2 linked regions of the Homo sapiens genome follow. The protein of the gene in region 1 binds, or shares a complex with, the protein of each later gene. Each region holds a gene or a part of one and is shown in the gene's direction. Other genes may lie near its edges.

The links.
Region 2: the proteins of NOX5 (region 1) and CALM2 are in contact, whole or in part, in a crystal structure (PDB 6SZ5), measured with the Homo sapiens proteins. Residues at the interface, in NP_078781.3 of Homo sapiens: Trp720, Ser721, Val723, Phe724, Val727; in NP_001734.1 of Homo sapiens: Glu12, Phe13, Ala16, Phe20, Leu33, Met52, Glu55, Val56, Phe69, Met72, Met73, Lys76, Met77, Thr80.

The regions. Positions count from the first base shown.
Region 1 is NC_000015.10:69,008,162-69,020,016, forward strand, and holds the start of NOX5 (NADPH oxidase 5), read left to right. Parts: upstream 1-6,533; 5' UTR 6,534-6,574; coding exon 6,575-6,624; intron 6,625-11,855. UniProt on the Homo sapiens protein: Calcium-dependent NADPH oxidase that catalyzes the generation of superoxide from molecular oxygen utilizing NADPH as an electron donor. May play a role in cell growth and apoptosis.
Region 2 is NC_000002.12:47,165,812-47,175,151, reverse strand, and holds part of CALM2 (calmodulin-2), read left to right. Parts: intron 1-944; exon of another isoform or gene 945-2,692; coding exon of another isoform or gene 2,693-2,738; exon of another isoform or gene 2,739-4,387; coding exon 4,388-4,418; intron 4,419-9,340. UniProt on the Homo sapiens protein: Calmodulin acts as part of a calcium signal transduction pathway by mediating the control of a large number of enzymes, ion channels, aquaporins and other proteins through calcium-binding. Calcium-binding is required for the activation of calmodulin.

The DNA.
Region 1 (11,855 bases):
GGTGTTTAAAACTCAAAATATAAGCTCAAAGTCAAATCAAACAAATATCAAAAATATTACAGAAGCAGTAGTATTATGACCTTAAAACATGTAACAAAGGCAGCATAAGCCTGTCTGACCAGTAAACCCAGGCAAAAATGTCTGAATTATATTTAACTGATAATTTTGGAGCCATTTCTATTTTACTAACATTTAAAATCTAGCTTTATTTATCAAATATTATCATATACACATGCCACATAGTGACATATAGTCATACAAACACAAACAGAAGCAGATCTTATAGTTTTTATAAGTAATTCTTACTTGCCAGCTTTTAGTTTTTGTCCCCATTTAGACTGTTAATCTTTTAATTACTTGTTTTATTGCCCTAAGCAATTGTTAGCTATGCAACAATTTGCCTTTTAAAAAGATGACTCAACAGGTTAAACAAGGTAGAAAATGTATATCTCAAAAGAATAGAGCTAAGACCTGTTCTTAGCTCTGTTTGGGCCTAAATATTGTACCATCATTTGCTTAAACCAAGGAAAAAAGGTTGCATGTAAAGGCCCAGTTAAGACAAGATGGCCAGGATAGGCGCCGTAACAAAGACCTGTCATGTAAATTTCAAACAATGGTAACAGTTTCTAGTGACCCAGGCCTCCCTCTCAGACACCTTTACAAATGGAAATTTCCTTCATAGATTTAAATTTCTCCTATAAAAGTGTTTACAGATAGCCAGTTAAATGCCAGAAATATGTATTTTAGTTCAATAGGTGATCTTTTAAACTTAGCTGTTGTTAGCTAAAATTACTGAGTTTAGGGTGGAGTCCATTAAGAAATAGGGCATAGAAATCATTCTCTATCCCTGGACTCAGCATGGATAGATCGGGAAAAGAAGTGAGCCTACTTTACACCTGTGCACATATCGTTTATAAACACTTTATTCAGAATAGCTTTTTTCTGAGCCAGAGTCTTGCTCTGTCTCCCAGGCTGGAGTGCAGTGACACAATCTTGGTTCACTGCAACTTCCGCTTCCCAGGTTCAAGCAGTTCTCCTGCCTCAGCCTCCCGAGTAGCTGGGATTACAGGCATATGCCACCATGCCTGGCTAATTTTTGTATTTTTAGTAGAGATGGGGTTTCACCATGTTGGCCAGGCTGGTCTCAAACTCCTGACCTCAGGTGATCCACCTGCCTCAGCCTCCCAAAGTGCTGGGATTACAGGCATGAGCTACTGCACCCGGCCAGAATAGTTTCTTTTTTTTTTCACCTTCAGCTGTTTCAGAATTCTTGGAAAGCTATTTGGCTATGTCAAAAGGCTTCAGAAAGTTAATACTTCCTGGTTTTGTTGTATTAATACATTGTGCAACCATCACTACCATCTATCTTCAGAACTTTTTTCGTCTTGCAAAACTGAAACTGTATGATTAAGCCGTAACTCCCCATTCCCCTCTTCCCTCGGCCTCTGGTAAGCACCATTCTACTTTCTGTGTCTATGAATTTGACTCCTCCAGGTACCTCATGTAATTGGAATCATACAATATCTTTTCGTGACTGGCTGTTTCACTTCAGTGCTGCCCATCTTATAAGTTCTTATTATTTTTTTAATGCATGTTTTTCTTTCCTTTCTTTTTTGAGGATTCTAAACATGCTTAAAGTCTATGATTTTCACTTCTTAAAGTATGAGTTCTTCTCCCTATTTTTGGTTTGATTGGCTGTCTTTCTTAGCATTCTTGATATTCTTTTTCAGATCTTTTGGAATGCCAGCTTACTGGTTCACCTTGAATGGTAATTGTGTGAGTGCATGTGTGGGTATGCATGCGTGCATGTGTGTGTGGAGGCATGTGCATGTTAGTGTTCAGTCCTCATCTAAAAGTTTTGCGGTAGCTTTCACCCCACTTCCTGGGCTCCCTAGTTCAATTCTGGCTTTGTATTGGTGTCTCAAGGCTCCTGTCCATGGAAATCCTGAGGCTATTGTGGGTCCAATCACCAAGGAGCAGTTGGCCTAGTCTACTTCTTCACTATCAGGCTTTGTGAATTTCTTCTTCTCTCCTAGATACAAGATATAAATCATTGTCCCAACAATGGCCAGTCCTAGCTCTTTTCAGTGCTCTGCCATAGGCAGGGTCCCCTCTGTGGAGGGTGCATGGCAATATATTCAAGCTTATGTACAAGGCATTTGAGGTCGAGGAATGGAAAAGTACCGAGGCACTGTGTGCATGTTGTTTGTGCATGCGACTGAAACTCCTTGACCCTGAAAACAGGGCAAGGAAAGGAATGTGTAGTAAGGAGCGCTGAAAACAGCCTCCTGAGACTATGGTCTATGTGTATTTCCAAGGCCATATGTGCCTCATGGCCCAACTGCAAAGAGCCGCCTGGTGGATGCCTTTTGTTTGAATTGTAGTTTAAACAAGCTCTCTCAATAAATATTCGGTGGACAGACCTTGGAGCGGCACTCTCTCAGAGGAGCTGCTCCCCGCCCTGCTCAGCTGGAATTGTCTGAGTACTTCATTCTTGGCACTCACTGCAGCCACAAGCTGCACCCTCAGATGAGGGGTTCACATCCCTTCACCTGCAGCAGCCTCTACTTGCCTCTGGACTTGGAGCTGCGCAGAACTGTAGCTTCAGTTTCACTTGCCATTGCATATTTCTGCCTTATCTCTGGTCAATAGAGATGTTTATCTGTTTTTCAAGAGCAGGCAGTCTTTTAAACCGGGCGCGGTGGCTCACACCTGTAATCCCAGCACTTTGGGAGGCCAAGGCAGGTGGATCACCTGAGGTCAGGAGTTAGAGACCAGCCTGGCCAATATGATGAAACCCCATCTCTACTAAAAATTCAAAGAATTAGCTGAGAGTGGTGGCAGGCACCTGTAATCCCAGCTACTCGGGAGACTGAGGCAGGAGGGTCGTTTGAACCCCAGAAGTGGAGGTTGCAGTGAGTCGAGATCACACCACTGCACTCCAGCCTGGGCAACAAGAGCCAAACTCCATCTGAAAAAAAAAAAAAGACTTTATCTCTCATCGCTTTGTGTATGGCACAGATGGGGAGGTCTCAAAGGGTGAACTCAGAGTAAACTTGATGCATCTCAACCAGAAGTCCCGAGTGACCACTTCTTACTTTTCTGGCTCCAGCTTGTGGGTGTGAAGGAAGGGACATTAGCATGGATGTACCCCTTTGGCTGACTGCAGGGTCTCAGGCTCCCTCAGCCAACTGTCAGTTCTCCCCAGCTATTTCCTGGGTAGGCACCTCACAGGCACTCACAAGCCGGCCACTCACATCCAGTCACTCTGACAGCCTTTGGAGGGGATCTCTTCTTCCATTGTCCCATAGTTTGTGTCTCTTTGGAAAGCACCTCCCAGTGCAGGGGCTCTCCCCTGGGCCTCCAAAATTCACGACCCCTGAATAACCAAATAATACCAGAACCACACCAAATTCCCTGCAAAATTAGGGAGAGCCCCCCACCTTCTTTCTTCAGGGTCTCAGATCAGAGTTCCAGGGCAAAGCTGGAGAAGAGACTCACACTCTCCCTTGTTCCCCAGGAACTATCTGAAGCCCCCCAATCCAACTTCCTCCTTAGTGGCAAATCGGCCTCAACAAGGCAAACTAGCTCAGGCAAGTGAGCTTGTCAGACACAACCCCACTCTGAATCCCACGCTGGGCTACCTTCTGCATGCAACTGGAAATAAACAAACATTCCATTTTAGCAGTGATTTTAATCTGGGCAAGTGGATTACACCGATTTTTACTCTTTTTTTGTGCTTTTAGGCTTTTTTTCTAATTTTTAAATAATAATAATTATTATTTTTTAAAATCAAGATGGGGTCTCACTCTGTCACCCAGGCTGGAGTGCAGTGGTGTGATCTTGGCTCACTGCAGCCTCTGCCTCCTGGGCTCAAGCGATCCTCCCATCTCAGCCTCCTGAGTAGCTGGGACTATAGGTGCACACCACCACACCCAGCTAATGTTTTTGTATTTTTGGTGGAGATGGGTTTTCGCCATGTTGCCCAGGCTGGTCTCGAATTCCTGAGCTCAAGTGATCCACAAACCTTGGCCTAATAATTAATGTTTATAATTTGTGTAATTATAAAAAAGTGTCATTGAGAGAAAAAAATCTCTCCTTCCAAAAGTTTTGTTAGAAAAAAGACGCTTTTAAAAATACATTTTCTGGCGAGGTGCGGTGGCTTACACCTGTAGTCCCAGCACTTTGGGAGGCTGAAGCAGGTGTATCACTTGAGGTCAGGAGTTCGAGACCAGTCTGCCCAACATGGTGAAACCCCACCTGTACTAAAAATACAAAAATTGGCTGGGCCTGGTGGTGCATGCCTGTAATCCCAGCTACTAGGGAGGCTGAGGCAGGAAAATCACTTGAGTCCAGGACACGGAGGTTGCAGTAAGCCAAGATCATGCCACTGCACTCCAGCCTGGGCAACAGAGTGAGACTTCGTCTCAAAAAAAAAAAAAATTTTTTTTCATGTTTATTACTTCCCTTTAAAAACTTGCATTTTGTCCAGATACTAGGATATGAACTAGATTGTTGTCAGAACTTTGGCAAGTATTGATGTGTTGCTCCATTGCTTAGCATTGCTTACTGGCTTCCTAGCTCCTAGGTAATCCTAGGCCTTTAGCTCTCTTCCTGCCAAATTTGTCATGACCTGACTCCTGCTCCCTGCTCCAGTTCTGCTTTCAAATGTGTGCGTCTCCAGGTCATTACCTGAACTGCTTATAGTTCCCAGGACACAGAATGCATTCTCATTTCATGCCTTTCTACACGATCTTCTAGCTGCCCAGAATGTCCTTTTCCGTTTCCACCTGGCAAACTCCTACTCATGTTCTAAAACCCACTACAGATCAGTCACTTTCACTGGGAAGTCTCCTCGGTTCTCCCTTCCCAATGCTGTCTCACAACACACTTCTGTATCTTCATTTACCATGCTGGATTATCTTACTTGTCTCTGTGTATACAATCAGGGCCTGGATATAGTGTTTCCTAAGTATTTGTTGAATTGAGGCAGGTTTATTCATTCCACAAACATACATGGAATGCCCATGATATAGTGAGCACTGTGCTAGTTTCCTGGGATTCAAAACTAATGAGGCACAGATCTTGCCTTTAGGGGCTCACAGTCCAGAGGGACAGAAAGAGACACACACAGATAGTTACAATTACAGTGGGTACCGGCAGCTCTGTCTCACATCTTCTCATTCTTGCTTTTTTCCCTTAACTGGCCATAACTTGAAAGTATAATTCATATTTACTGCTTGGCTTATTTCCTCAAAAGAATTTTCTGTTTCCTACATATTATTCCTGAACTGATTTAATGAAATGTGTTTGTATTTCTCTCTTTACTTTGCCAGGAAAACTATTGAAACAGTCAAAGTAGCCTCCAAAATTGCTGCTCTCCAGGCATGGGAGCACCCCATTTCCAGAGATTACCAAAAGATCACTGAAATTCTGTAGAACTTGTCTTGGGACTGGCCCCAAACAAATGAGAACTGGCTGAATCTGTGGGTAGAAAAATATGTGAGTGACAGCAAAGAGGCTTCCAGTGAGCCCCTGCTGGTTCAGAAGACTTGACATGGCCAGCACCAAAGGATCCCTTTAGGGTACCCCCACCATGAGCCACATACTGGGAGAAATTTCTTGTAGCACTCTGCTTTAAAACAAAACCATAATGATAACTAATCATTTCCCTGATTTTGGAAATTAACCAGAGACATCTAAAATCACCACTAGGACATCCCAATCTGCACCAGATGGCCAGGGTTATCAGCCAAAGCTGATCTCTTTCCAGGCAAAACAAAAAGTATAAACACTTTGAATTTTAATCGCAGAGCAGTATTACCTAAGTAATTATACAATTTCCCTTAAGTTTAAAACAAAATAGCTTGCAGGTCCCACTTTTTTCCCTAGGCTCTATGGGCTAGGAACCTCTGCAGGTGACTGTTTCAATATAGTTGTACACAATATGTTGAGACTGAGTATAGCTCCATGGGTGGTTAACTATACAATCTCCACAGTCAGCCCAATGTAGTTGTAAAATTTGTGCTGAGCCCACTGGACACATTACTTCACCTCTCTGTTTCACTTCCCTAATCAATAGAATGATGCCAACACCCACCAGATAGGGCTGTGTTACGAATTAAACTGAGCAATACGTGCAAAGTTCTTAGCACAGTGCATGGCTCAGAGTAAGTGCTTAAACATTTTTGTTGATAATTGATATTATTGTTATTGGCGAAGTCTTGCTTGACTTATAAGCAGGGCCTGCCTGGAGTTGTTGGTGATTTTTTTCACAGTATGTTCCTAGATAACCTAGCTTCACCATAGTATTTTTGAGGAAAGGAAAGAGAAGATACTGGGCCAGATGGAAGACAGCTCATCCTTCCTAATAAAACTCTTGCCCCATTGCATTCCATGCTTCCTGGTTGGGATTTTTCTAGACCAACTCAGCCACCAGTTTTATGAGGGACTGTGGGTGTGAGCAGGTCTTTAGGAGTCAGGAAGAGGAGGAGTCAGGGGGGTGGCTACACAGTGCAGGCAGCTCAATGGACAGCAGTCTTTCTGGGACCTGTGATCTAGAAGACAGGAGAAGATGAACACATCTGGAGACCCAGCCCAGACGGGCCCTGAAGGCTGTAGAGGGTGAGTGGCTCATTTGTCCAGCTTTCCATGCCAGGGACAAGGGAAAGGTGGGATTATTTGCCTTTGTGGGATCTACAAAAGGTAACTGTGTCTGCCTTGGGCAGAAATCAGAAGATCTGAGCTCTATTCTTGCCTTGCTACTAGCAAGCTGGGCAATCTTGGATAAGTCACCAGCCCTCTCTGGGTCTGTTTTCTCATCTGTAAAATAAAGAACTGGCCAAGTCAGTGTAATAGCAATACCCAGCATTTGTACAATGCTTTCCAGTTGTACTTTTCCAAACAGCATCTCATTTGGTCCTCATAGCCCTTTGTTGGAGAGATGCTTGTGGGCTGGTCATTCAGCTGGTGCAAAGCAAGGCTGGACCTAAAATCCTGGTCTCCTGGGGTAAATTCTGGCCTCTGGTGAGCACATTGTTCCCCTTGAGCTCTGAAATCTGAAGATTCCCGCTCCTTCCTGCTACCTACAGTGTTACCTTCCTTCCCACCCTATTCCCTCACCACCTAGATCACTCTGGCTGTCCCAGTCTCTTCTCAGCCCCTTCCCAGAGTTACCTCTCCCCTTGCACAGGCCCACCACACTGATCTTGTTTCTGAAAAGTGGGAGGTGAACAGCAGATACCTCCTCCCTGCCTTCCCTGCGTTAGCACTTGCATGCAGCCCTTTTTCCAGAATTCTCTCTGCTTTGTGGAATGCCTTCCCGAGGGTCCCGAGAGATGAAGAAAGTGGAGGCTGTTTAACCCCTAGGGCAGCATTTCTCCAGGTGCATGGGTGGGTCACCCATGCGTGGGTCACAAGATCCGGGGTGCAGGTGAAATGTGCAGATTCCTGCCTCCTCCCCACCAAGGTTGGCGAGTCAGAATGCACATTTTTACAAACTCTCATGTTTCTGGCAAGAACATATTGCAGTTTGGGAACCACTAGTCATTAGGTGAGTGCTCTTTTGGGCCGTGGAGGGCTGCCTTGAAACCACCAAAGGGTGGCTATAAGTCAGTGGGAGGTGTGAATGTCTTTGGGGGGGCAGTGATGGGAAGGCGGCTTCAGCTCAGGGACATGAGAAGCAGGCACTCGAAGCTTGGAGTCTGCACAGGCAGTGAACGCCCATCAGTGAAGGTCGAAGCAGAGTCATTGTTGGGTCGGGGGTGGGGAGAAGTGTGTGGGGCTGGGCCCAGGACAGTGGTTCTCTGGGGCTGGTGTGAAAAAACCTAGGAAGCTCTTAAAAGAGGCTCCTTGGCTGATGTTGAAGCCACGAGGGATGAGAAGGTCTGATGCGAAGCTCTCTTCCTCTTTTCCAGCTGTGGGCTGCTTCTGGTACACAGGGATAGTAATAATACCTACCTCACTGGGCTGCACCAAAGACAGAAGGGGCCAATATACTAAATAAAGTGGCTGGCACACTGGAGGGCCTGGAGCCCCTGCCTTGGGAGCGTGCAGGAGCTGGCCTATCTCAGTGGGAGGCTGGGTGGGGGCATTGCCCTGGCCCTTGACACTCCCAGCTACAGGTTCTCTCCATGCCTCATCTCACCCCCCTCCTCCACAGTGAGTTGGGCCCTGGGAGCTTTGGACTGGCCTCTGGCAGGGGCTGCCTGGAGCACCCTCCTTGCTGCCTGCAGCTCCAGTGACTTACTAGGACCACACATTTATAGGCGAGGAGAGAGTGAGAACCTAGACAGGTGGTCCGCAAGAAGAACCTGAGGAGTCTGAAGCCTGGGACTTAGGCCTGGCTCTGCCCCAAGTCAATGCAGGGGCCCTGAGAGGACATCTGTCTGTGCTCCCTGTGGGAAATGGGAATCCATCTAGGACTTGCTGACTTGGAAAGTGACGTGAGTTAATAGGCATGAAAAAGAGAAGAGAAAGGTGTACATACCTAATCATCATGTGCTAGACAGACATCCTATGCCCTGTCACAACTCTGCAAGGTGAGCTATCACTAACGCTTTTAATAAATGAGGAAACTGAAGCATGCATGCACACACACACATACACACACACACTAAAGCATATATGACATATGCATATATATATATACATACATACATACACACACTAAAACATATATTTGTAAACCAAAAATAAAAATCTAATCCCCTCAGCCATCTGAATGGACCCCTCCTCTCAGCAAAGGGCATTCCAAAGTTAGCCTGAAAAACTAGTTCAGGCCATCATGGGAAGGAGGGACCAGACATGCCTCATTATACTCTCCTCCCTTGTGGGATTACTGATAGAACAGACCCTTTAAGTCTGATGAGAAACATTTATACTCTATTGTCTTTGAAGCCTGCTACCTGGAGGCTTTACCTGAATGACGAAACCTTGGTCTCCATAACCCCTTATTTTAACATAGAAATTTCTAAGTATTTATTTATTTATTTATTTATTTATTTTCTGAGACAGAGCCTCACTCTGTCACCCAGGCTGGAGTGCAGTGGCGTGATCTTGGCTCACTACAACCTCCACCTCCTGGGCTCAAGCAGTTCTCATGCCTCAGCCTCCCAAGTAGTTGGGATTACAGGTGCATGCCACCACACCAGGCTAATTTTTGTATTTTTAGTAGAAATGGGGTTTTGCCATGTTGAACAGGCTGGTCTCGAACTCCTGACCTCAAGTGATCCATCTGCCTCGGCCCCCCAAAGTACTGGGATTACAGGCATGAGCCACTGCGGCCGGCCAGACGTTCCTAAGTCTTTAGACAAAAACTTAATTCTTTTAACCAATTGCCAATCAGAAAAATCTTTGAATCTACCTACGACCCGGAAGCCCCTGCTTCCAGCTGTCCCACCTTTCCGGACAGAACCAATGTACAACTTACATGTATTGATTGATGTTTTATGTCTTGCTAAAATGTACAAAACCAAGTTGTGACCCAACAGCCTTGGGTATATGTTCTCAGGATAGCTTGAGGGCTGTGTCACAGGCCATTGGTCACTCGTATTTGGCTCAGAGTAAGTATCTTCAAGTATTTTATAGTTTGACTCTTTGTTGATATATTTTATACACACACACACACACACACACACACACTCAAATACATGCCACACATATATAGCATAAGACACATGCCTATAAAGAGGTCAAACAGAGAAACAGAGGTCAAATAACTGGCACAGGATCACCCAGCAGGCACGAGGCACTTTAGAAAACCATGGAAGTGCTGTCTGAGGGTTTCTTTTCACTCAGTAATACCAGCGGCTCTGAGAATGCTTGCTAGAATTCACACTCCCAGGGCCCAAACCTCAGAGCTTCTGGTCCTGAAGATCTGGGGCTGCAGAGAATGTGCACTTTCAACTCTTGAGATGATGCAATTGTGGGCGGTCCATGGACCGGACCGCACTCATGGAGCCCCAGAGGCGCCGGTTGCTCAGGCATCCTAGGGAAACTCCAACTCCCATTTGGGTTTCAGAGAAAGAGGAACAAGCAGCAGGTGGGATTCCTAGGGATTGGCAGGGAGAATGGGCAAGGAGGCTGCAGGGCCAGGCCTGGGGACCGGGTACTTGCTCAGGCAGGTGAGAGGCAGCTGGCGGAGTTGGTGTGAGCCAGCAACAGACTCTTTAAGTCTGATAAGAAACATTTACACTCTGTTGTCTTTGAAGCCTGCTACGTGGAGGCTTTACCTGAATGATGAAAGCTTGGTCTCCATAAGCCCTTATTTTAACCTAGAAAACGCTGCTCTGATAGGGAATTACAGTTAGCTGGGACACAACCTAGGGAGATGCTGACAGTGCACCTCTCCCACCAAGTGAGGACCACCCCCACCCCCACCCCCACAAGACTCTTTTGTGTTACTGGACGCCCAAAGCTGGGAACCGTGCTTCAGAGGGCGGATTCTCATCTGATCAGTGGGCTGTACCTGTTGAGCCACTTGCCTCACAGGTGTGTTCTGGGATGAGGTTGTGCCGTGTAAAATGTTTGTTTTACTAAGGTATTAATTTGCTGGGGGATAAGAGGCCAGTAACACCCTTGATATCACCTTTTGGAGAAGCTGCCCTGGGGAGCCACATCCCGGGCCAGAGCTCACTGATGGCACAGGATTAAAGGTCAGGGGATGGAGAGGGATTTTTTGTTTGCTCTATTCTATTCTATTTTATATTTTATTATGTTATAAGGGATGGGTTCTCTGTTGCCCAGGCTGGAGTGCAATGGTGTGATTAAAGTTCACTTTAGCTTCGACCTTCTAGGCTCAAGCCATCCTCCCACCTCAGCTGCTAGAGTAGCTGGGATCACAGGTGCATGCTATCATGCCTGGCTAATTTTTTAAATTTTTGTAGAGATGAGGTTTCACTATGTTGCGCAGGCTGGTCTCAAACTCCTTAACTCAAGCAGTCCTCCTGCCTCAGCCTCCCAGTGTATTAGGATTACAGGCATGAGCCACCACCCCCGGCCTTGCTTGCTTTTTAATTGTCATACCCGGCAGTAACGAGGTACTCCCTCCTCCTCCCGACTGGGATGGTCAGAGGAGGCCCAGTGGAGAGTCAGGACTTTGCCCACTGCCCACCTGCCATGGAAGGGGGCAGGGAGGGATGTAGGTGTGGCTGTGAACCGGCAACTTGAGAGAGTCTTGTGGTGGAAAGTTCTGTATCTTGACTCTATCAATGTCAGTATCCTCTTTGTGATATTGTACTACAATTTTGTGAGATATTACAATTGGGAGAAACGGAATAAAGAAATCTCTACATTATGGCTCATACCTGTATGTGAATCCATAATTATCTCAAAATGAAGAGTTTTCAAAGATTATCACAAGAATGGTGTATGCTCATGGATACCATCAGATCAATCATACTGAGGCGTAAAGCAATACAGAACTGAAATCCTCTTTCTCCCCTCCAGTCCTGCCTCTTTAAGGACCAGTGCTGACAGCCTGATGATTCCCTTCCACACAGTGCTACTGTATTTATTCAAATCAATTCACACCTATTATAGATAACGTGGGCGGGCTTAGCTGTTTTGAATGGCAATCTAGTACACAGTGGTGGATGATGGATATGGGCCATTATGCAGTAACACTTTTATTTTTGTAGGATACATTCCTAAAAATTGAATTGCCTGAAAGATAGTACAATTCATGTTCTCACCAGCACTGTTTATATTGGATATTACCAATCTTTTGATTTTTGGCATTCTGATACCACTTCCCCCAACTACAAAAGATATAATTGTTATAAATCCCATTTCCCCAGGCATGAGAAGTGAATTGAACATCTTTTCAAATGTTTATCAACCAATATAAGTTCTCT
Region 2 (9,340 bases), on another chromosome or scaffold:
TTTTTAAAAGCATTTTCCGGTCACCTCAGACTGGGAGATCATGTTCTTTCCTGAAAAAAAAAAAAAAAAACACCTAATGAGGGCGGTGATCTGTGATACTTACTTTGTGGTTCCTCCTGCCAAGTGGTTACAGCGATGGGTGTGTCCAGGAGGCAAGGTGACATCTTAAACAGGAGTTAGGGATCCTTGCCAACTGAAACCTCCAGCCTGTATGGGTGTGGGGAGACGATTTCACCTTAAATAAAACTAGCGTTCATTGACGTTTGATGGATTTGCTTCATCTTGATGCTTCAAATGTTATTCTGAATTTGAATGTGCTGGTTACATTTGCTTTCTTAAAGATGTAGTTACAGGCATATGTAATAAACATTACAAGTTGTGGAGTAAGCTTTTTTTTTTAAATAAACGAAGGGTAAAGTTTTCTTTAATCAGTTTTGATAATTGAATCAGTAATTCGAATAGATTTTTTCTTGGTAGAGTTGGTATCTACGCATTTGTGGTCCCTTGCCCAGTGTTAAGCTTTTGTAGTTACTGTTTGCATCACTGGTGCTTTGGGGGTTTTCTGTTAAATTGACAGCTCTTACTATAAGAGACAAAGTCGAAAAAAAAAATCTTAATAAAAATTGACAGATATCATTATTTGTGACAGATACAGTAAATTTGAAAATTGCCTTCACATAACTTTATAATTAGAGGACTGAGATTTTACATTAGGAATCCAATTAAAAAAAATTAGCCGGACATAATGGCCTGTGCGTGTAGTCCTGGCTAGTCAATGGGCTGAGGCAGGAGGATCATCTTGGGCCCGGGAGTTGGAGACTGTAGTGAGCTATGATCACACCACTGCACTCCCTGGGCAACAGAGTGAGACCCTGTCTCTCAAAAAATAAAAAAAATTAGGACCCCAAGTTAAAGTATAAAAAATTTTATACGGAAGTAAAGTAAGATTGCTCATGTAACTCTTGAGTTTACATGTAATCAACATATGCTCATTGAAAACGGGATTGCTTCAAGAGGACTTTGAGTGCAGGGTGATTAGGTAAGTAAAAGATGTAAAAAGGTAGAAAATTTTTGTCACTTGAGTCTAAATAATTGTTCTTATAAGTGCCAACGCCTGTTTCTGTTAGGCTCAGAAGATCAAAGGATTTGGCTCTTTTAAAATATAGAAAGCTCTAGCTTCAGCTAGAATTTAGGCCTTTAGTAATAGCCCTAATTTTTATGAAGCCATTTTGTTCCAGTGATCTTTTGGTGAGAGATGCTATGTAAGTACTATTCTTCAGAATTAGGTGTCTTTTTACCCTAATGAAATAATTTAGATTGCTTTTGATACAGGTAAAACAAATATCCTGGCTTCCATAATTGTAGAAAAAACTTCATATAGGAATCCTTGTTGTATCAAAGTAGCACCTGATGGGAATGAACAGACAGGAATGGATGAAGGATAGCAGTTTGCGTTCCATTTCAAGCCTATGGGCTCACACATTTATTCAGATAAGAACACCACCTTTCACTAGATAAACTCCAACAGTATTCATGCATACTTTTGAATGGCATGTAGGAAATGTTTGATAGGTACATAATGTATTCACTTCAGGTCACTAATGTAATACGGGGTCGTGCTCCTTAGTGTTGACAGATCACCTATGGTTCTCCAAAATGAACATTCTAGTACAGGAGGTCTAGGGAGGAACCTGAGAGTATACTAATGCCTAGGAACTTTCTCTGGAGTGGCAAGAGCAGTGGGAAGAATTATGTCAATAGCTACAGAAATAAGGGAGTAAGAACAAGTCATCTCTCTAGTGAATTCTTCTTCACTTTACTGAGATAAACATACATGTTAATGAGCTTGAGTTTTCCCAAAAGTATAATTCTTCTGGTTCTTCTAAGAAAATGGCACTCCCTGGAAACAAGGAAGAACCAAATTTATTCGCCTTTGTAGCAGTTGGGAAAGTTAGTGCTAGGAAGTCTTCTTGATTTATAGTAGGCTTTAATCTGGATATTGCTGGTAAAAGTTTATTCTAAAACCTGAACTCTGGATAAGTAATACAAAAAGCTTCTCAACCTTCCAAGCAAAATTGAGAGCTTTCAGGTTATGTGAGTAATTTGGTCTCTTGGGTGCTTAATTCATTCCTTGAAGCTCATTTTTGTGATCTCTTCCAAGATTGCATTTGCTTGGAGGTAGGGAGTTAGACAAGATGGTATGAGGTCCCTAAATTTTGACTTTCCAAGCAAAATTGGACAGTGGTTCCTAAATTGCTAACATCCTCGTTTCTTCCTAAGGCTTCTCATGTTTCATATATAGTAGCCTTCCCAAAGTCCCATTTCCCACCCCCCCCCCCCCCCCAACCCATGTAGAGAGAACGAACCTGTCTCCCTTCCTGTACAGAGTACGGGATCCTTCAACTTTCACACAGGCTGCAGTGTCTGCCACACATTTAGCTCAACTTTTTTTTAGCCTTAAAGTGATGTCCGCTGCATCTGTCGCTGGGTTGCACCTTGTGGATTTAGTTTGCATAAATTTTCTCAGCTTAAACAAAGTTAACATTGAATAGAGTAAGCTTACCATAAAGGGCTTAATAAATGCCATGCATGTCTACATTCGGTGTGGAAATTGAGCTAGTCAGGTTGATATTTAACATTGTAGGTTCTTTGTTAATTTATATGAAATAATGGTTATCATTTAACTCTTTAGGTTAGCTTTGTACATAGCATCTCACTTTGCACAACAACCCTGCAAGGTAAGTATTGTTATTCTTGTGCTACAAATGAAGTTGACTGAGAGGAGGAGTACCACGTCCAAGGTCACACAGCTATTAAATGGCAGGGCTGGGATACTGGCCTGTGACTCAGAACTTGATGCTTTCCCCCCACGCCACGCATGCCAGGTTGCCCTTCCTTTCAGAAATGGTGGAAGTCCTGCAAAATGCAATAAACTGAAGTAATGTAGCTTCTATTAATACAAAGTAAATAACTCAGATTTACTGGATTTTAAACCTTATTCCTTGGGTAAACAATCTGTGACTGACTTCACACCAAATATTTGTTGGCGGAGGATTTGGACTTTAGGGATAAAAGTGGATACATTTTTTATTTTACAAACTCTGTATTTGAACTTAATTATTGGCTCTTCAATTTTACGTTACCAGCTTTTTTTTTTTTTTTTTTTTTTAATGAATTTGATTTACATCATGGTCAAACAAAAATTGTTGAGCAGGGAAAATAAACTGCTTTCTGGATTCCTTCTTGAATTTTCTCATGTGCCCTAGAGAAAATGTGTTCCACATTAAGGTGTTACTTTTTCCAGGGGTGTGTTCATTTAAAAAGAATGAAGCCAGGCAATGTTTATTTTTCTTTTACCTATAAATAAATGAATGGATTAATCATTGTATACTTGACTCCCATGTTGGTAGGGATTTTAGATAGGAGGCTATTTCTTGTCTGTGCTTCTCAATACCCCATAAGCAGTTGCTTCATGGATGTATATACTAATAAGCAGTGAAAGAAAGTGCATGTTCAAAGAATACAACAAGGAGTCTGGATATTTTGCAATCATCTTTATATATTACGGTGCTCTGAATTAAAAGCTAAAAGTTACTGGGTATGTCTGACACCTTAGTGCTTTATCTTTGTTCTACTAATTTTCTGTGCCCCAATCCCACTTAACCCTAGCCTCATTCCTTATCTGTAAGATAGGGGATAATACCACTGTAAGGTTATTATTAAGATTGAATAAGGATAAAATTTATAATGGGTTTTAGCAAATGGCAGAAAATATTTTCTGAAGAAAACCAAGTGCTATTAAAAAAACATCACAAGCCTTGGGCTTACTTTGGGATTTTAAAAACCAAGAGAAAATGGATGGCTGAACTTTCAAACATTTGGTAAATATTATAGTACTGTAGTTCAGAGCTCTGGATTCTTTGCATTTTGCCTGCTGGGTGAGAAGGAATAAAAGTTTGTGCCTTTTTTTTTTTTTAATCACTTTAATTTCAAAACAATGTGTTTAACCATTTGTGGGAGTAATTTTCATTTTGTGAGCCTGAAGCATTTTGATTCAGTGGGAATTTCTGGTGATTTATATCTGGAATAGAAGTGAGCTTAAGTTTAGCTATTCTAACGTTGAAAAAGGAAGCAATGTTTCTATTGGATTCTAAAGTATATTTTCAAAAATATTCTGAAGTATTTGTATATCTTAAACTTGGAGTTAAGACAGCTTAGCTTTGAAGATAAGAGAAACTAGATGTGTGCATTTTCTATCCAGATGTGTTTGTTGCTGGAACTAAATGAAACAGTACATGGTAACCCTTGAAAGGTTTTAAACTTGTTTCTGTAACTGCTAATCTACATACTCTCAAGTCACTAACCTTCCTCTTTGATCTCTTTGTAGGCTGACCAACTGACTGAAGAGCAGATTGCAGGTGAGAAATACTCAGCTAGATTGTACCCATTAGATTCTTATTATAAATTGAATAGCCAACGTCAGAATAAGAGACTTGTATGAAATAATTGACTTTGGTATATGTCATGGATACTAACATATGGGTATAATATAATACAGTAATTCAACCTGCTTTGGCAAGTGGGATTGTAAACTTGCCGATGGAAGATGTGCAGGGCTAATTGTAGTTAAAGACATGTATTTTAGTCTGCGTGGATATACTTTGGAGCCTTGTGGTGTAGTGGTGGTCTTTGTTTTGTTTTCTGAAGACTACCTTAGTATAAAACAGGAATTCTGGGCTAGCTAACACGCTAGAAAAGGAGGCCAAGAAGTAACTAAGGCAACTTGAAATGGAGAATCAAAAAAGGAACAATTGAATTTACCCTAGTTAAAATTAGCTAACATTTTAACCTAAGAATTGCATATATAATCAGTCAGGGAATAACCATTTCTCAAGTGAAAAAATTTAAGAAGTTGGCATTCTATTCTATAAATGTCACTGTAGCAATGTGGATTTTTCTCTTAAAAAACAGTGACAGCTGTTGAAATGAAGCCGCTTAAATCTTGTCCCTTTTAGTTTGCTATGGAAGTATGCAAAATTATTACATAAAACCTGATGTCATGTTCTCTTTATGCCATGCCATAGAACATTAATACTTTTGATTTATCCTTGTACATTGAGATGGCTGGTTAATGTCAATGTTGGGGAAACTTTTTTTTCCCCCCTTGCCGGAGTTGTTTTTTTTTTTTATTGTAGTGTTGAAATGCTTTGCAAACTATTCCTTTGTTTTCATTAGACACTTTTATTAGCATGAGCACCAAGCAGTTTATTTGCCACAGTTTTCACAGTAAGCAGGAAGGGTTTGATAAGAGCTCAAAAGCACTTGAGCACTTTTTCTTAGGCTGGAGAAAACTGAGAAGCCCAGTTGGAACTATATAGCCCATTTAAAGCAAGCTCCCCACTTCCATAAGCATATAGAAGTTTGGGGGATACCAGAATTACACTAGTCACCTCAAATACTATTTGATAGGACTGTAGGTAGAAAGCTATTAGTATTAAAGACAAATTTAAGCAGGTTTTATTTTTATTTATTGTGTAATTTGACTTAAACTTAGTTTTTACTTTCTGAGGTTGGTAAATTACATGTATTGACTGTTATGAACAAAAAGCAAACAGTTTTGGGAATAATTTTTTTTTTGTTGAGTTACACTGTTTTAAAGGTATCACCTATTTGATCTCATGTCTCCTCAAAAAAAATAGACTGGGCCTGATGGCTGGTAATCTTATCACTTTGGGAGGCTGAGGCAGCAGGATCACTTGAGCCCAGGAGTTTGAGACCAGCCTGGGCAACATAGTGAGACCCCATCTCTACAAAGTAAATGTATCGTCAAAATGTTTTTCTGAAGTAGTTTTTTTTATAAATATACTGTCTCCTTCCCAAATTGTCTCAGGCTGTCTAATACTTTCACTCTTAAACTCTGACCTTCTGTAATACATTTCTTAATATTCCCAGTCAGGTACAGGTACCAACTGTATGCAGTACAGCATGTTCACTTTAGGGTAGAAAACGTTACTCAGTGTGCCATTGCATAGTTGATGGTCTGCTCTCTTAAACAACTCTTTGAAAAGAAAGTTTGTTGGCCGGGCGCAGTGGCTCACGCCTGTAATTCCAGCACTTTGGGAGGCCGAGGCGGATCACTTGAGGTCAGGAGTTCATGACCAGCCTGGCCAACGTGGTGAAACCCCATCTCTCCTAAAAATACAAAAATTAGCCAGGCATGGTGGCGTGCACCTGTAATCCCAGCCACTCAGGAGGCTGATGCAGGAGAATCACTTGAACCTGGGAGGCAGAGGTTGCAGTGAGGCAAGATCATGCCACTGCACTCCAGCCTGGGCAACAGAGCGAGACTTTGCCTCAAAAAAAAAAAAGTTTGTGTCTATTGAATATAAGAGGATCCCTCTTCAGTGATTGATAGCATTTTTATTTTTTAATTTATTTTGAGACAGTTTCACTCTTGTTGCCCAGGCTGGAGTGCAGTGGCTCAACTTCTGTCTCCCGGGTTCAAGCTGTTCTGCTTCAGTCTCCCGAGTAGCTGGGATTAGAGGCATGCACCACCTGGCTATTTTTGTATTTTTAGTAGAGATGGGGTTTCTCCATGTTGGTCAGGCTGGTCTCAAACTCGCAACCTCAGGTGATCCACCCGCCTCAGCCTCCTAAAGTGCTGGGATTACAGGTGTGAATCACCATGCCTGGCCTGGTAGAATTCTTATAAAGAATACTTGTAGTTCATCAAAACTGTGACATTCAGGACCTGTTCTCTTTATTGTCTTTAAGTTAAATCCTATCTTTTCTTGGCTTTCATCATAAAATTAGGTTTCCAATGGGAGTAGAGGGAAAAAAATCTGTTCTTAGGTTCTCTTCTTATCCTGCCTTTTCCTAGACCACAGATTTCTTTAAAGCCATTCCTTGGACCTCCAGGTTTCAGTTAAGATTTAGGGCAGAGGAACCAAAACTTCTATGCTACTAAAATAAAAATCATGTGCGGTCAGGGACCTTTTTGTTCTACTTTGTAGGCCCGGTACCTGCCACATAGTAATCATTGAATATTCCTTGAATAAATTTTATTCTCAATGAGTGTGTAACACAAAAAAGTTCTAGAGCACTACTATCCTAAGATTTCTGCCTACTCTCCAAGTCCCTTCCTCCCAAATTTGGTATATTTCAGTGTTTACCTTTGAGATGAAGGCAATTTTTTAATCTGGTAAATTGTAATTGTTGGTGGCTGGGCATGGTGGCGCATGTCTAATCCCAACACTTTGGGAGGCTGAGGCAGTGGGATTGCTTGAGCCCAGGAGTTCAAGACCAGTCTGGGCAACACAGCAAGACCCTGTCTCAAAGAAAAGAAAAAAAAATTTTTTTTTTTTTTTTTTTAGTTGTAAGTGCTGGTGACCGCTAACATCCTTGTGTAGATGAAGTTACTAAATTTTTTTTTTTTTTTTTTTTTTTTTTTTTTTTTTTGAGACGGAGCTTCACTCTCTTGCCCAGGCTGGAGTGCAGTAGCATGATCTTGGCTCACTGCAACCTTTGCTGTCCAACTTCAAGCAATTCTCCTGGCTCAGTCTCCCAAGTAGCTGGGATTACAGGCGTGCACCACCACACCCGGCTAGTTTTTGTATTTTTAGGAGAGATGGGGTTTCACCATGTTGGCCAGGCTGGTCTTGAACTGCTGACGTCAGGTGATCCGCTTACCTTGACCTCCCAAAGTGTTGGGATTACAGGCATGAGCCACTGCTCCCGGCCTAAAATTTTTTATATTACTTGGTCGTATAAAGCATTCCAGTCTAGTATGACATCACTAACAATTTCATTTTGTTGATAACTCTGCCATGATGTCATTAGTTGTTGCTGTTTGACTTTTGGAAGACTGATAGGAAAAATGTACAGTATTTTTTCCTTAAGAAGTCTGTACCTAAACTTTCATTAAATTTTCAAGGTCCAAATTTGTTTGAGAAAAATATTAATATTACTCAATGTATAGCAACAACTGCATGAAGCGCCAAAAGAGTTCCAGTACATGATCTTTAAGGGATTATTAAGTTCAGAATTTTGTGAAGAAATAGAAGTTAATAAACAGTCATTTGATTTGTTTTGTAATTGTCTTGTGATAACCTATTTTAATAAAATTTTTAAAACATGTTATTTTAATAAAATTATATGTTTAGGTAATAAACTAATTAGGGAAGGGCCTTGGGGTTGCTAATGAACAAATAAAACTTGAGTAATAGATTTTTCTGAAAGTTTCAGTTTGGTCAGCTAAAATGGATTTTGGTAGGTTCCTTATATCTATCAATTATGTAGAAGATAGCTGTTCTGTGGCATTCAGGACCTGTTCTCTTTATTGTGTGTTTAGGTTTTGACTCTTGGATTTAATTTCAGGTCATTCCTGGGAGTTACAGTTTAGAATTATATGCTTCTATACATAAAGATTACGCTAGTTCTGAAGTACAGGAAAACTGTAAAGGCAGGTGAATTAAAATTTTACTTTGGGGTTTATTATTTTGAGTTTTTACAGGTATTTTTTACTCTTTAGTATAAAAATACAAGTAAAAATTTGGAATAAACCTTGACCTTTAAAAGAAATGTTATTTGTTCCTTTCTTGAATGAATAACAAATGGTATTAGCATAGATACGGTTTTATTTTCTGCATTTTACTTATTCTAGCAAACATTTTAAGTGTTATTAGATTTTTAAATTTCTCGAAAGTTATACATAGTCTTACACTATGCATCTTCCAGTATTTAGCTTTTTGTTAAATCATGTAATAGAAAGGTGATTACTGCTAATTAAACATTGGGAATTTATGCACCTAATGGTGGTGTTAAAAGATACCCATAGCAGAGAATGTAATATAAACAAATACCTCAAAGTCCTTTAATTTTCTTGTAACCTAAATTAGGTGAAAGGTGCAATGTGTCTGAACTCCAATATATGTATTTCTAGATATTTCTACATTCTGTTTAAAAACAGTAAAATTGAAATGTCTTTATCAATTGTGCTATTTGTAGGTGGAGACTCCCTGATCTATTTTTGTCATTAGGTTGATCTAGGTTAGCACTGTATACTATCTTCATAAAATCAATTAGTGTGGTATGAACCTTCTGATTGGTATTAGATGAGTTCCTCTATAAACCAGTAATATTTAAATAAGAAAGAATGCAGTTAGGAGGCAATTGTAATAGCCCTGGCAAAGGACGATGGAGCCTTGAACCAAAATACTGGTTGTAGAGATGGAGGAAAAATCAGGCAGTATTTAAATGATAGAATTCGAGACCTGTTGACAGATTTCAGACTGAAAGAGTTAAAAGTGGCTCTTGGGCTTTTGCTAGTACCTTTAGGGTT